2 separate regions of the Homo sapiens genome follow, and region 2 is linked to region 1. Evidence: fine-mapped expression QTL. Tissue or cell type: tibial artery. Region 1 holds a variant in brackets; the other region holds the start of a gene. All regions are shown on one strand. Distances are from middle to middle.

What was found. PIP is the estimated chance that this variant, and not a neighbour inherited with it, causes the effect.
Region 2: it holds the start of TLN2, and the variant in region 1 is fine-mapped to the expression of TLN2 in tibial artery (GTEx, PIP above 0.99). The same link has a PIP of 0.9 or more in subcutaneous fat.

The regions. Positions count from the first base shown.
Region 1 is chr15:62,510,181-62,518,285 of GRCh38, reverse strand. The region is part of intron 1 of TLN2 (talin 2); the gene reads right to left. Among named protein-coding and RNA genes, the nearest start is that of TLN2, 120 kb to the right of the region's middle. The variant G/A (reference allele first, on the strand shown) is at 4,351.
Region 2 is chr15:62,385,657-62,393,761 of GRCh38, reverse strand. TLN2 (talin 2) reads right to left here and starts at 3,212. Exons shown (of 59, transcript NM_015059.3): 1 at 3,077-3,212. RefSeq lists enhancers at 2,190-2,804, 3,723-3,792 and silencers at 2,983-3,312, 3,360-3,556.

The sequences.
Region 1 (8,105 bases):
GCAGGCAGATCACAAGGTCAGGAGTTCAACACCGGCCTGACCAACATGGTGAAACCCCGACTCTACTAAAAATACAAAAACTAGCGGGACGTGGTGACGCATGCCTGTAGTCCCAACTACTCAGGAGGCTGAGACAGGAGAATCGCTTGAACCCAGGAGGCGGAGGTTGCAGTGAGCCGAAATCATGCCACTGTACTCTAGCCTGGCGACAGAGTGAGACTCAATCTCAAAAAAAAAAAAACTGCTGCTAGCTAATATTTAATGAGCATTTACTATGTGCTCAGTCTGACGTCAGTGCTTTACTCTCGTTCCACACAACAATCTTATGGCTAAGTAAAATCATTAACCCCATTTTTCTTATGAGAAAATTCAGGCTTAAATAGTTCAAGTAATATGTCCAGGGATATTTAAGTAAGTGGCAGAGCTGGGACATGGCTACAGAGTCTCCCATAATTATTTCATTTAAAAAAAGAAAGAGACAAACAGACTTACCCAACAGGTCTGGGAAACTTTTGTACCATCAAATCAGTATGTTCCTTAGAATTAACATGTTTGTTTTTCCAAGTGGGTAATGTGGTAAGCCACAAAGCACCAATTCTCTTATAACATTAGCGGTGTGTTTGACTTTTAAAAAACAAATTAGAATGTAAGTAGAGTCCTCATTCTCCTGGCCAATGTCATTTTTTTGTTTACAAAAGGGGTACAAAATTAAAATATTGGGGGTGTGGAATAATTATTCAGGTTCATTGCAAAACAGCAATCACCACCTCATTTTTCTCCACTGCTCGGCAAATGCAGTGGGGGTAAACCACCATGGCCCCCAAGCAAACTTAAAAGTAGAAACAATTTTGTTTGGGATATCTTTATGTTTGTATCTATAAGGATTTAACTCAGTTATTTTTCAAGCAAAAACATGAAACATCCCATTTTATTCCAAGTACAACAAATGTGTGAACCTTTACTGTGATTTTCTACTAACAGCAGTTCAGGGTATGAAGGAAAAGGAAGAGGACAAAGGGACAAGGGTGAGCCTAAGGAGTAGTAAAGACTGGACAAAGAGGCTAAAGGATGAAAGGCACAGGTGCAGAAAGTGGGGACTCCAAGGCACAAAGTGGGAGGAACGGCGAAGGTTTGGTAATCTCTGAATTAGCAGCAACCTCTCGCCATCCTTGGCTTCAGAACATCCACCAGCCACTGAAATATTATTAGCTCTTTCATCCGTATCCACTGATCTTCAATGAAATAGTAACAGTGAGGAGGTGCCACATGGTGACGGAGCAGCAATATCTTCAATCTACAGCATCATAGTCAGAACAATCCCATCACTGGATAGTTCCAGTGAAACCCACATCTCCCTCCACTCCAGTCAACCTACACCTTTCCAATAAAACTCAGGACCAAGTTTATCAATACCTAATTCTGCCTCATGCAATTACCTCACCTCCTACCTAAAATCTTAAATAAGCAGCCCCAAAAAAACTTTCTGCTCTCAAAATGATACGAGGCAAAGCTACTAAGAATGACTGCACAGGCAAATGAGTCGTGGTATGATTGATCACCTGCCCCCTAGAGCTTCTGTCCAATTAAGCTGGGTGGGCAGAGACTGATGGTACCAAAGGCAGAAGGACACCACCAGGCCTTCAGCCATGGGAAGAAAAGAGACAAGAGGCGGATCAAGGCTGCAACAGCTGTCCAGAAGCAAGCATGCACCCAAAGTTGAAATCAAAAGATTTGAGATAATTATAGGTCACTACCAACACCATAGAGTGAATATGTTCCTTCACCTGACAGACACATTTTGTCTTATTTGTAGTCAAAACAAATAGAGTAAAATGTAGAATTCTTCAGGCAGAGCAGCAAAACTCCTAACTGCATAATGTGATTAGGACCAAAATAAACCTATGACCCATATAAAAACACTGAAAACATAATCCAAAGAGGAAAGGATGCTGTATGTCATTTGCAAAAAGGAGAAGGCAAACTCACATGTTGTTCTGGACCTAATTTAGAAGCTCTTATTGCCAAAAACTATAATAAATTGTGAGCACACTGTCTTCTTTTCATACTGCCTTACCCTCTCAACTATAAATAATAATTTCATATAAGCTGCAACGGAAACGGCAGCAAAAGACATGGTCTCTACTTGCACAAGTCACTTGACCTCTCTAAACCCAGGTCTCCACCTGTAAAAAGAGATGGTTGCATTGGATGATCCACAAAGTAGAGTCACACTAATCAAATGTCTTCAGTTTTGAAATTCACACTTGATTGGCTCCCTTCGAGTCCTGGCCACATCATACCTGAGCTGCCCTTCCCCACCCAGGATCTTGTTGCATAGGGGGTTCAGCAGCAGCGAGCTACTGCACAGCGGGACATGCCAGCAACCACAGCTGCTATGGGGCAAGCCCAGCACACATAAAGGACAGGCAGAGGGTGCCTACAAGAGGAATGGCAAGTATGTTCTGCTGGATTTATTTATACTTTACGACCTGTCCACTACCAAAAGAATTCACTGGAGTCTGATATAAAAACACACGTCTGAAAAAAAATCAGATGTGTGAAAAACACCAAAAACCCCAACATGCACAGAAGGCACTTAAAATGAAGATCAAATTAAAAACTAGAAACTGTATGCATGTTTTCAGTGATCCTTTAGTCACTGGTAGTATGTCTACACAGATAAGCCTAAGGATAATTTCTTGTATCTAAGTAAGAAATGCCCTCTCCTTCAGGGAGAACACTCATCACAAAGTTTACTAAACCCAACACATAATAGGATCTGTTATAGTTATATTTCAAAGAAAAGGAGAAAGAGAAAGTTTTAAATTCCTGCACACAGGTATGCCAGAAAACAAGACCACAACTTGCTGGCTCTTTGGAGTAGCCAAAGTCTGGAAACTATGCAAATTTCCAGTGACAGTAAAATGGATAAATTATAGTATATTCACACAATGGATTACTATGCAGCAATAAAAATGAACAAACCAGTCATGCAAACAACAACATGGATCAATCTCACCAACACAGTGCTGAGCTAATAGCAAGAGCTAACTGATATGATAAATATACTTTTGGGGGGATTAAAATTATATTGGGAGTATGACTGAAGATAGCCATCTACCACACAGATTTAAATAGAAGATGAAAAAAATCAGAGAAACAGAAATAATAAAAATCTTAGCATTAAAATGGGCCTTAGATCTTCTCTAGCTAAGCAGCTTCATTTGACAGAGAAGGAAACAGAGTGTGTAGGGAGTTCCAAGGTTCACGTGCTCTTAATTCCTAGGTCTGTACCTTTGCCTCATACCTGCTCCTCTCCACAAAATGTTCCAGACTTACATTTCCGCTCTCCTTGGTGTAAGTGAGTTATATTTTTTTAAATGGCATTTTGCATATTTACTCTCTTCTGGGAAAGTTGAAAGTTTTCATTTTCCCAGTTTGTTAATTCCACACTCCAACAGGGTAAAGATAGAAACTGATTTAACTCTTCTCATTAGCAATGCCAATTATTTAGGAAGATAACTGTTGAATACTCACTTAAGGACTACTGAGAGATTAAATGCAATTTACCACTCTCGAAGTCTTTAACACTTCAATTACAATTACAACCTGACACAAAATTAATTTCCATGTTTTGAAATAATACACCAAACTAACTGATACAATTTCCCTTTCTTTCCCTCTGTCAAAAGTCAATGCCCATGAACTGCTAAAATAAAATCTCTTCTTACAGTATGTGAAGGTCACATTATATTTACATGCTAATGACCACTGTGAATTAATTACCACTCTTAATCAAACAAGCTCATCTGCCTAAAACAGGTTATAAAAGACCTTTGAGAGGGGAAAAAAGCACCGTATTAAAACTTTGTTCCCAACATGCCATACGTACTTGTAAAGGGAGACTCAGGATTTTTCTTAAGAGCATTAGACATTTGATCTTTTTAACAGAATTATACTTCACTGCCACAATGAAGAAAGTTTTATGGTTATTTTTTTCATAACACTACTGACATAATGACATCAGGTAAAACCTCATTCATAATGTATTCAAAAGTTTTGTTCACAAGTAATAAGAGCCTCTAGGAAATTAATTACCAACAAGAACTAAAAAAGCTGGAGGTGTTCGCATACTAGGCTAGTAGCCAACAAGCAACTGGTGACCAAAGTAAAGCAGCTAGGTACAGTGTGTGCTGTGCGCATATATTATGCAAAAACTAGAAAGTTGTGTCTTTCAAGTTATAGCAAAGCTAATGTTGAGGTTTCTGCCAACTCCTTGACAAGAATTTCTTTTGCTTTGGTTAGTAGAGGGCGGAGGGGTTAACTTGTAAGAGATCTGGAATATTCTCC[G/A]CCCTAGACTAAAGACAGAAATCAGTGTAACAGAGCCAGAGTCACAGCTCCAACACACAAGGCTACAGGCTTTTACACCATTTAATCTGCAGCTACAAAATGCCAAACAGGTTCTGAAAGGGTTTGCAATTCCATCAATATTTATTTAGCACCAATTTTGTGTAGAACTTCTTCTAGACCCTATCTGGATTGAAACCTAGAGAAGGATCTGGCATTTACTGAGTTGTCCATATGCCAGACACTCTGCTAGACCCTTTAGTATCTGTTACACCTCATTTTTCATCATCACTATCACCCTGCAGGGGAAGAATGATGGGCCATTTCACAAATGGGTAACTGGAGGTTAAGTGACTTGCCCTTAGCAAAAGGTAAAGGTCTACAAGGTTATGGGATACACTCCCTCCACTGTTCCAGCTGACCCCAGGCTATAAGACATTTCCCTGTCGAAACAGGAAGGAAATCCAACATTTACAACAGAGCAGAAAGTTCTAACACAAAGCAAAGGACACCAGCACTAGGAAGAGACAACGCATCACAGATGCTGAGCAGGAAAGCTATCACTTCCCACCTGGCAGGCAGGTGTTGGGAGGGACCACAAAAGAGGGATCACTGGAGCTGGCTTTGGGAAACAAGGTGGCCCTCAACATCTGGCAACAGGTAGACAGGCACAGCAAGCAAAGGAAAAGCACAGCAAAGGGCCTGCAAAGCAGTAAGGAGGGGGCTGTGGCTGGACCATGTCGGGAGAGATGGAGGATCTAGGTCATCATTGTGAGAAGGACTCAGCATGACCAGAGGCTCCTAAGGCAGGAAGGACAGCTGGAGCAAAGTGGAGAACTTGGGAATGCCTATGTAGCAGCTGCCACTTGGATGCATGAAAGGGGGATATTGAGAGATTAGAGGTCAGGGCACCAATCAAAGCTAACTAGAAGAAATTAGAATCCTTGAATCAGGAGGTCAGGAAAGCAGGCTTGAAGCAATTTTGTGACTGAAGAAATAAGTGCTGGAAGAGGAGGATTTAAGACTAGAGTTCAGTTTTGCAAGCCAGATGAATGGGAAACAGATACTGTTACCAATCCAAACAGGAGAGGGAAGTCTTGAAGATGCCCAAAACATCCTGACCCAAACCAGCAGAGCAGCATGGAGGATTTGTGTAGGATGGTTCTCCTTCCAAGAAACTGGAACACACTGTGGACAAATAACATCTGGACAAACAGCCACTCATTTCACTGACTTACTTCAATGCAAGGGTAACCCATGAATTTTTTTATGGTTGGCTCTATGTCTGTCAAACTAATGTCATTACAGAACCTCAAATACCATCCATGAGAAGAAAGAAAATGTACACTCGGAAAGAGCACATCATGTCTCTCAGCAATTACCATCTAAATTTTTTAAGTCTACTATAAGTATCTTAAAGGGCAAGACAGAGTGGTCTATTTAGTTATGAGTAGCCTCTACAGCAATTTAAGTTTCTGTGGGACTTTGGGTGACTTCTTAGAGTTACTATGCTACTTAGGATCAATATGTTATCCAGAATGGGGGAAAGGTTAAACAAAGAAAGGAAGGGAAATAATTTTCCACTAAGAGAGAGCAGATTTCTGAACCGAGAGGTCCAGAAGTGAGCCTCTTCTGAGAATAGACAACCGACTCAGTCAGAGGGCCCAAGAAATGATGTAGTAATTTCACCATTAAAAGACTAACATTCCCCATTCCTGTGGCAGATCCAAACCACACAAAAAGATGCTGAGGGGCTCTAGAGTCTGTCATGTGGCAAAAGTGTAAAAAACATCATCCAAAGTATACTAAGCTTAGACTTTTCTGCTTCCAGCTGTGACCCAGGACAGCAGCTGGGTGGGCAAAGCAACTTTGTGACTGAAGAAGTAAGTGCTGGAAGAGGAGTATTTAGGACTAGAGTTGAGTTTTGCAAGCCTCCTGAGTGCACTGACCAGGACTAGACACCAGGGCACGGCAAGGGAGCATTTCAGGCACAGGTGCAAAATCGACCAGGGTTACTGCTGGGTTTTGAGAGTGTCTTCTCAGAAAAACACCCAGAAGAGATCATCTGAAGGCAAGTTAAACACCGATTTTTGTTTTAACTAAAGGCAAGAAATTCAGAAAAATGGGGTCACTCATTCCACTCTAGCTCAAAAGAATGGTTTAAACATAAATGATCTCATCCTGAGTTAGATATACCAATCTCTAGAAATTTCAAAATAACTAAGGAAATTGGGGTCAATCCTCAAAATTCAGGGGTGAACTCCATGAAGCATACCGCTTACTCCCAGAAACATCCCTCTGTCAGTGGCAGAAAGGACTCCGCTTCTCACGCTGGGGGTGGGGTGGGGAGGGAGACTCCCCCAGGGCCTACAGCAGGTAGGGGAGCTGCAAGATGAACATGGCACCTCTTCCAGGCAAGTCAACCCTCCTCTAACATTTGCGAAGAAAAGTAGCATTTTAACATAAAAACAAATAAAATGCACTATGGGATAGAATGTGAAATCCAAGTATTTTTGAGAAAAAAAGGGAGAATTCAAAGAAATTTTCACAAGACTACAGTGGGCAATTTGGAGCTAGACCCAGCTGTTTTGAGGACAGGTGTTGAATTTTCATGGAAAAGTATGGAGTCATTCTTATATACTCCTCAGCTCTTCAACTTAGAAACATTCCTAAACATAAAAAAACACACTAATAGACTCATCGGAAGCCCGTATATTTTACCACGTTCATATGTCATTAATAACAAGTGCTGCTAATAGCTGTTTTGCCATGCCCTGATCATCCTAGTTCAGCCTTATCAAAACAGCTTGAAACAGTACAACCACAGGAGGGGTCAATGTCTGGAGGTCACTCCATAGTGAAGACAGAAAGACGACTTAGCTGTAGAGCCTAGCATTGGGTGAGATATGAACAGCACAAAATAAATAATCAAGCCACTAATATTGTAAGACGTTCTTGTCAAAATGCTTTCGAATTGTACTTGGGGCCAAAGGACAATCTTTGTGTCTTAACTTTTACACTTCATTCCAGATACAATTCTTTTCCTAGACTTAGGAAGAGCATGTGGTATCACTCTATAGCACGTAACTGGATTCTCTGGGGGTTGTCTTCTTTCACATACATAAAAACACATTCTATTAATTCTCAGAGAGTCATTCCAAGGACCTGGAGGCACTGGGGGCAGGCAGGGCAGAGAAAGGGCACTGCTTGGTGCCCAGGCACTCACTGTCTCTCCTGCAAGGTCAGCAAACCCTCAGTCACCTGCCACAGCATCGCCCTGGAGCAGGCAAAACATCACCATGCATGAATTAGTGGGGATAAAAGAACAGAGGCTCCATAGGGGCTCCCAAATTACAATACCCATAACTTACACATTAAATGACATGCTAAGCCATAGGCCCAGCTCAAAGTAGTATGTTTTACTATGTGTTGGGCAAGATTTAAATATGATACATATATTATCATCATATACCTATTTCTATGCCATCTCATCATCTAAATTATCTCAACTACTGCATAAGGTAAGCACCATTTTACAGCTTAAGGAACTGAAGCTCAGAATGATGAAATGATTTGCACAAAGCTACTAAGCGACACCCAAGCCTAGCTGATCCCAAAGCCCAGGGCCCCACCCTCTGGTTCACCACTCAAGAGCCACCACTTCAGAACCCTTCTCCAGGGCCCCTGAGGAAAATGGCATGCTCTGGTGGGTGCCCAGTGCTGACCCAAAGGGGCTGGCAGCACCTGTCATGAGAAGG
Region 2 (8,105 bases), 120 kb after region 1:
GGGAATAAAGATTGGAGGGTTTGCAATAAAGCTTCTCTTTTTTATTATGTAAGGTTTAACATGTATAAAATATATGTGGCATATACATAGTTACAAAGCATAACGCTAAAATGCATAAATACCTATTTAGATGCATAGTTTTTTTCTGAGCATAGTTGGTAAAAATTTATATCATTCACCACCTGTAATCGTCCTTTACTGCTCTAGAGAACTAACGATGTTCTGGGAGTGAGGGGTGAAGGAGGGGAAATCAGGTTAATTTTGAGAGAGAAAAGACAGATATTGACTAGAAAATAACATACTCACCTCTTCCTAAACCCTAATTTCACTTAAAAATACTCTAGGGAACAGTGTTTGGAAAAACCTGAATGAGTCAGCAGTAGATGAGTTCAAAACACATATATAGCCTATGCCTGTACAGAATATCCCTAGTAACTCATTCAACAGGGTCAAGTTGTTAAAAGTTCGCTTTCTCTTTCGAGGTAGAAGCTCCACATCAATGCCAAAAAGAGAGACCCTCTAATACTCTTTGGAATCTCCCTGATAACTTAAATGGTTACAAAGGCAGAGAGAAACCAGTGGCTTCCCCAATATGAAGAGACCTGTTTCTGTGATTAAGGTGCTCCCTCTAAGACTGGAAACTTAAAACGGATTGAGGCTTTCTGCAACTGATTTCTCTTCTAAATTAGCTATGCTAATTTTGGAAAAATATATCTTGGGCTCTGGGTGTTTTCCACTATTCTAGTGCTCAATGAAAAAAAAAAGGCATTCGTGTAGGCATCCCTCTTCTCTCAAGACCACTTGTCACACCCACCGCCATCCTCTGATTTTGCATAGAGGTCCCAAATAAGCAATCAAGGTAGGTAAAATCTTGGCTGACATTCATATCGGAGTCACTTTTGCAGGCGCTTCATGAAATGAATCAGGGAAAGAGCTGCCTAACACCTAACATCTCCAGGCACATCTCCCACAGGAAAGCCTCTCCCCTCCCTCTGCACACCTAACCCCCAACCCCAGAGGTTTCTGTGGTCCCTTCTAGCCTCTTCAGTGAAGAAGACCGGAAGTGCCGACAAAACCTCAATACTATGACATCATTTCGGTAACACTCCAAGGAGAACACGTTCCTGCAATTGGCTGCCTGTAGGTTGGCAAACACGCCCGTGCCCTGTCCCATCACAAAGCAGAGGTCACAGTCTACTTCAAAAGTAAAGATTCCCCACTCCCGCTTCCCCCTCACTCCAGAGAGGTCGCTGCCTCCAAGCTCTGGAGAAGGGAGGTCAGCGTGCAACCTTACAATGCCACAGCTTAACACACCCAGGTATTATTAATGGAAAAGTAAGTGGTACTTACAGCACCAGGGCAATTTACGTGTATTTTGGGGACCACTTCTCCAAGACATCATCCCTACCCAACCGTCTTTAATTATGTCTTTGACAACGCCAACACTTCAGTTCATTCCTCTCTCATCTTCTGGAAAGAACCAGAAGTTTTCACTATGAGACACAGGAATTCTGGCCTAAGTTGTCCCAGCTCTTCAAGGACAGCAAGAATCCAAGTTTCCCCACGCGTCACCTGAAGCCCCAACTTCTGGAAACGCCCTCCTTTCCTCGCCTCTACGAGCTGCGAGAGCAGAACACGCAGCCGCGGGCGCTACTGCTGTCGCCGCTAAAGCCAAAGAGGCGACTGGAAGCTCAGGCTGTTCGGCGGCCTCGGGGCGACCACAGGCCAGGCCCTGGTCCTGATCCACGAACCAAGGCGCCTCCTCTCCCCCAGGAAGTGAGCTACTGCGCCCCTCGGAGCACCCAGGCGAGCCCGGGCACCGGGAGAACGCTCTACACTCGGCGCCCAGCCCCGGGACGCCGCCCAGCGCACGGCTCCGGCTGAGCACCCGGGCAGCGGTAGCTGCGGGGAAGAGGGGCGTGTTCCCTGAGCCTCGGAGCCCCAAGGCCGGGTCCAGGCGGGACAGAGGAAGGCGGCAAGCCCAGCACGCTGTCCGTGACGGCGGCTCTCGTTCCCAAGCCCCGCCGGCTGGCGTGGCGACGCGCTGTAGTCCGCGCGCCCTTGCGGGGACAGCAGTCGTGCGCGCCTTGTGCGGCCGCCTCCGCGCCTGCCTCGGCGCGCAAACTTTCCCGGCGACAACCGATCAGGCCTCTCCGACTGGGGCGCGGGGCTCTCCCCGGGACCCAGAAACTGCTCGCCCCCTCCCCTCCGCAGTCAAGACCCACTGAAAATATGGCGCCCTCGAAAGTCGTTCCTCGGTCCCCTCAGGGATCCCGAAATACTCGTCTCCAGGTCCCTCCAGCTTCCAATGGGCGCAAAATTTCAGCTCGTGGGACCGAGGAAGGAGAGGGAGCCGCTGAGTCTGTGTGAGGCCAGCCGCACTGGATGCAAAGCCTGGCCCCGCTCTCGGCCCGGCACTGCCCCCGTCGCTCAGCGGCCAGCAGTTCGCCCGTGGCGAGATTGCCAAGTAAAGGGCAGTCGTGGGATCGGCAGGTCTGAGTGTCCGGCACCGGAGAAGGAACTCCGCACTGGCGGGCTGTCTTAGCCCAGAGCCTCGGCGGGAGACTTGTTTGCAAAGTGGCGCTGGAGTCCCGGCGGCCAGTGCTGGAATGAAGCTGCTCCTCCAGCGCCAACTCTTCTGGCGCGGGGGCCCGGCTGGGGTCGAGGGGACACTCTATGCAGGCGGGGCCGCTTTTCAAAGCCCAGTTACCGGAAACCCAGCGAGAGCCCCGGAGGGGACCGGCTGCCCACGGCCAGGAATCCGCTCTCTGGCGCCGACTGCGAGGCTGTTTGCAAACCGCTGCGCCCGGGTCCGGTGCAGTGAAACATACATGTGCAATAGACAGGTGCATTAATTTCATTTTATTTTTATTTTCCTGCAAGAAGCCCTCCTAGACCATCAAATCTGGGAGCTTTACGGGTTTTTCCTGCATTGGCATCACTCACGAGAAGCAAAAGGGAGGAAAAAAAACCCCACATTTTCCTTCTGGAGAGGGGAGGGAAAAGACACGAGAAATTCATGCAACGTGCATGCAGCTGGAGGAAGAGGAAAACCCGAGTGAGCCGTGCGCCTTACCGGGGGATGCATTTACTGTCTCATTGCAGAGCGCCTGCCCGGGAGTGCAGCCCGCGTCCCCCCGCGCGCTGGGCGACCACTCCGCTCCCGCAGCCGCCTCAGCCGCTGCCGCCGCCGCTGGCTCCGGGCGCGGAACAAGAGCCGAGGGCGAGCGCGAGCGCACTGCCCGAGAGCGCTGGGAGGGCAGGAAGCGCGTCATCATTCGGGGACGGCGCGGCGCCGGTCCGGCCGCGGCGCCGCGCGGCACCGGGGTGGGCCGCCACCGAGGCTCAGGCGCCCGTCCTGGGTTTCCTCCCACGCGTGGTGATGCTGAAAGGGTCCGCGAGGGAAGGTGATGCACCGGCCGAGCTGTCACGGGGAAGGGAGGCTCGGGGTGACCCCGGCTTCCCAGAATTGGGGCTCTGCTGTGTAAAGGGGATGACTGCAGGACACAGCGTCTTGTAGGCTGGGGCCCCTAGGTCCGCAGAGTGCCCTCTCGGGACCTCTGGCCCGGTCCTGGGGGAAGCGAGCTGTGGCTAACTGGAGGGCCGTGGTGGGCGGTGGGGTCTTGCTGCGAAGCGGAGGGCCGTGACCCCAGGCGAGCCTGCTCCTTTCAGCACAAGGACCCTGAAACCTTGCTGGTCAGGTGTCACTTAGGTATTTAGAGAACGACTATAGGGATGAGTGGCGGTAGGGGCGTGCTGTGTTGATAAGAAGAAAATAATTCACTCCTGCTTGCCATGCCCTGAATAAAGTCAGTTATATACCTCTTACATTTACAGTCATTATTAGTAAATACTGTAAATACCATGGAACAATGTGAAGGTTATTCAAGGGGGTGAGGAGACAAAACACTATGTACCGTATGGTCCCGTTTTTAAAAACTGTGATTTATGGAGAAAGGCAGAAAAGACTGGATAGATAAACACCAATAAGTCTCTCAGTGATTGGTGGAATTGTGAGTAATTTTACTTTTTTATTTATCTGTAAGGGACACATTAGTAATTTAAAAAAACAAGAATTAGCCATGACCCCTTTACTCCTAGTACTTTGGGAGGCCAAAGCAGGAAGATCTCAAGCCCAAGGAGTTTAAGATCGGCCTGGGCAATATAGCGAGACCTTATCTCTACAAAAAAAATTAAAAATCAGCCGGGTGTGGGGGCGCATGCCTGTAGTCCCAGTTACTGGGGAGAATGGTGGGAGGATCGCTTGAGCCCGGGAGCTCGGGGGCTGCATGAGCGGTGATCCTACCACTGCACTCCAGCCTGGATGACAGAGCGGGACTCTGTCTCAAAAAAGAAAAAAAAAAGGAAAGACGACATTATTTCCATCCCAATACAGAATGGACCAGGAAATAGGTAGCAAATCTATTCAGTTACTCAAATGGAACTGCTGGCAACTTTTTAGTGTTTCTCAGAGAAAGAAACTGCTGTCACCATAAACCGGAGACTGAATTGATTTTGTAAATTGAAATTATTTTGAATAAGTCCGTTGGAACATTGGATAAGGCTGGACATTCTGTGAGAACAATACCCTGTCCTTAACCAGGCTGATGAACCGGACTGTATGTATCATAGCAGCAAAGATAACCTTAGGGTACAACTTTGTAACTTATTGCAGAATATAAACTGTAAAGCTAACAAAGTATACATTATCAATGCACAGTGAGAGAACCAATTACTTGGCAACTTGAGAAAGTCCTAAAAATTGCAGGGCACAATTTCTCATTGTACAGGTAAAGTATTTTTGTTCACCACGCCTTTTTAAACATTCACCAGTCTCACAGAATAACTAGTGGTGGCAACAAGCCACCTCAGGGGTTGATTAAAAAGTACATGTTTATTGATTTCTGTATGAGCCTGGTAATAAGCTCACTAAATTAATGCCACCTAAATTGTTCCTTGGTTTACTAACAAAGAATAACCATATTTTTATGGTCCAAATGCCAGGTTTACATAAGAGGCTCATCAAGAAGGAAAGGAAAAAATGGTTGCAACTTAAGTGATTTTCCCCTTCCACTTAGTCCTCCGTTCATAGGGCCCAATAGCTTCCTATCAAGCATCTCAAAATCTTTCTGACACCTGGATTTCAAGATTTTCCATTACTTAATGCATCCTCTTGAAAGTATCCCCACACTTTTCCACTACCCATCAGCGGGATGCCATTCAGTAATGGAAGCTACATTCCATGAGAGCAAGAACCTCATCTGTATCTCTGTGCCTGAAGGAGCCTGACACATAGTATTTAATAAGTACTCAATAAAAATCTGCTTTATGAAAATAGCCTTATTTGTTCACTACCTATCTTACTAGTTCCTGAGATATTTGAAAAGTTATCTATTCTATTAGAGTGTCAGCAAAATTCTGGGATGCTGAGATCCTGTAGAGTTATAGCCTTGGTTTGGTTCAGTTACTTTTCAAAGTTCCAGCTAAATCCTAAGGCATTCACAAGGGTGAGGTGCAGGTGTCTGAATATTTGGGCATTAATAAGCCAGATAGCACTATTCTGTGGCTTTCCAAGGTCAATTAAATTCTTTCCCCCAGTGAGAAAGAACATCAGCCTTAGAACTCAGCTTTAGTTCTAGCTTCAAACCAATTGGCTTTGGACACTTCTTAATTTTACAGCTCCTGGTTTTTCTAACCACTCTTAGGGCTCTAAAAACCATTTACTGTTTTTTTAGAGAAATCAACTAACCATTCTACGTCCTAGCATTATATTTTTCAAAAATTTCCCCAGTAGAAGTAAAAGCAATTTTACCAGTAACCTTTACTAACTTTTCTGAAATTGAGATGCCTCCCTAGACCTAAAAAAAGTTATTTCTAAATTTAGAGTCAGCTACTAGTAGTCGCTGTCTTTATTCAGAGTGATCATAGTTCATTGTAGACCAGCAAAAAAAAACTAAAAAAACAAAATCTAACTTTTTTTAACAAGATTACATTTTGGGGCTTCGTCTCTACCCAGCAGAGGAAAACAGGGTGGGAGATAAAACATTCCATCTAAGCAATTTCTCAAGCCTTACAGCCTCTTACTTCTGCCCAGCAGATCTTAAGTAGCAAAATAAATACACTTTGTATGAATAAAGAGTGGAACATTTGGGGAGGTAAGTCAAAGAGATAGCTTCCAAGTCACTTGTAATAAATATATCTGGAACGAAAAACCATTTTCTTCACAAGTCAGATTTGTAATTACCAAATTAGACATTGCTTGGTGCTAAAGAGCTGGATGCTGAGAGATTGCCCCTCTCCTCCCATTGCACTGAGCCTTAACCTCCTGAATTCCTGTTGAGCACTTGTAGGTATCTGGGGTGGCTTTGCTCAGCTTTCATAGCTGAGCAAACTCAACTGTGTCCATGTTGAAAAAATAAAAGAAATTCCACCAAATATTTTGTTATACTTTATTTATAAGAGAATATTTTGTGCCATAATAAAATATTTTAAAGGGCTCCCTTGATACAATACACCAACAGTTCATGATTTCCTCTCTTTCAAAAATGTTTGTATCCTTTCCTGAGAGCAAGGTAGGTAGGAACCACATTTTCTCAAAATTGTCCATCATTCAGAACCAGAGATGAAAAGAAGATACTTAGGCTTCTTTTGTAATTTGATATCTTTAGGTTTCTAGAAATCTCTCTACCTCTTTTCTGATAAGTTTTAGGAGAGTATATTAACCAAAAATTACAGGAGGAAATATTATCTGAGTTGTAGTACAGCATATAGTTCATAAGTTATTTTTAATTTATTTGAAAAGCAAATATTTGACATTTTGCAAAAATTAATATATTTTAGCTTTTTAGTTATCTCAAAGCATAGGACCTCATTTCATTTCTAACTATTCAGGATAGCATGACAGATACAGATTTAAATGTCCTATTTAAAAGAGGAAATTGGGCTGAGCATGATGGCTCATGCTTGCAATCCTAGCACTTTGAGAGGCCAAGATGGGAGGATTGCATGAGGCCAGGAGATCGAGACCAGCCTGGTCAACATAACAAGACCTTACCTCTTTTTTTTTTTTTTTTTTTTTTTTAAGAAAAAAAGAGGCTGGGCACGGTGGCTCACACCTGTAACCCCAGCACTTTGGGAGGCCAAGGCAGGCGGATCACGTGAGATCAAGAGTTCAAGACCAGCTTCACCAACATAGGGAAACCCCGTCTCTATTTTTAAAAATGCAAAAATTAGCTGGGTGCATTGGCACATGCCTCTAATCCCAGCTACTTGGGAGGCTGAGGCAGGAGAATCTCTTAAATTCGAGAGGTAGAAGTTCCTGTGAGCAAGATGGTGCTGCTATACTCCAGCCTGGGCGACAGAGCAAGACTCCGTCTCAAAAAAAAAAAAAAAAAGAAAAGAAAGAAAAAAAATAAAAAGAAAAGAGGAAATTGCTCCGATAGATTCAGGAAATGGTAATCATCATACCCAATGCAGAACATGCTTGACATTAATTTTTCTTCTACAGCATATAAAACATACTAAAAAGGTTCTTTAAATGTCTCTGAAGCAACATACTGTCTAGAAGAATATAATACCAGTAATTATTTTCCTAAGTTGAATTGATCCTTAATCCAAATCAAATCGTTAATATAGAGTGAATAGTATAGGAGGCAGAATGTTTTTTCTTTTGGCTGCTTGCTTGCTGATTTAAGATGTGTTTGGAGTTATACTGTGATTAAAAATCTTTTAAAAGTACTTTATTGTGTATCATCAAAATTGCTTTATTAAGTATGTGTCATTTAAGTCTCTGGTCACTTGGAATTTTTTTAAGGTTATGGATAAATATGTTTTCATGAAATTGTTCCATAATATCAAGATACAGTAGAAAGACTTTTAAACAAAAAAGTGTTTTAAAAATCTGTTATCACAGACCGTTGCGCCGCCCGCCCCCCGCCCACGTTTCACTAAAATATGTTAGCTAAGATTGGTCTTTGGGGCTCTGGAGATTTTTTATTTATTTATAGGTGCCACAGAACTCTTTTAAAAAAAATTTGTTTAGGGATTAGACCAATTTTAATTTTAAAATAGTATATTTATTGTCATCTAGGAAATATTATTCTAGG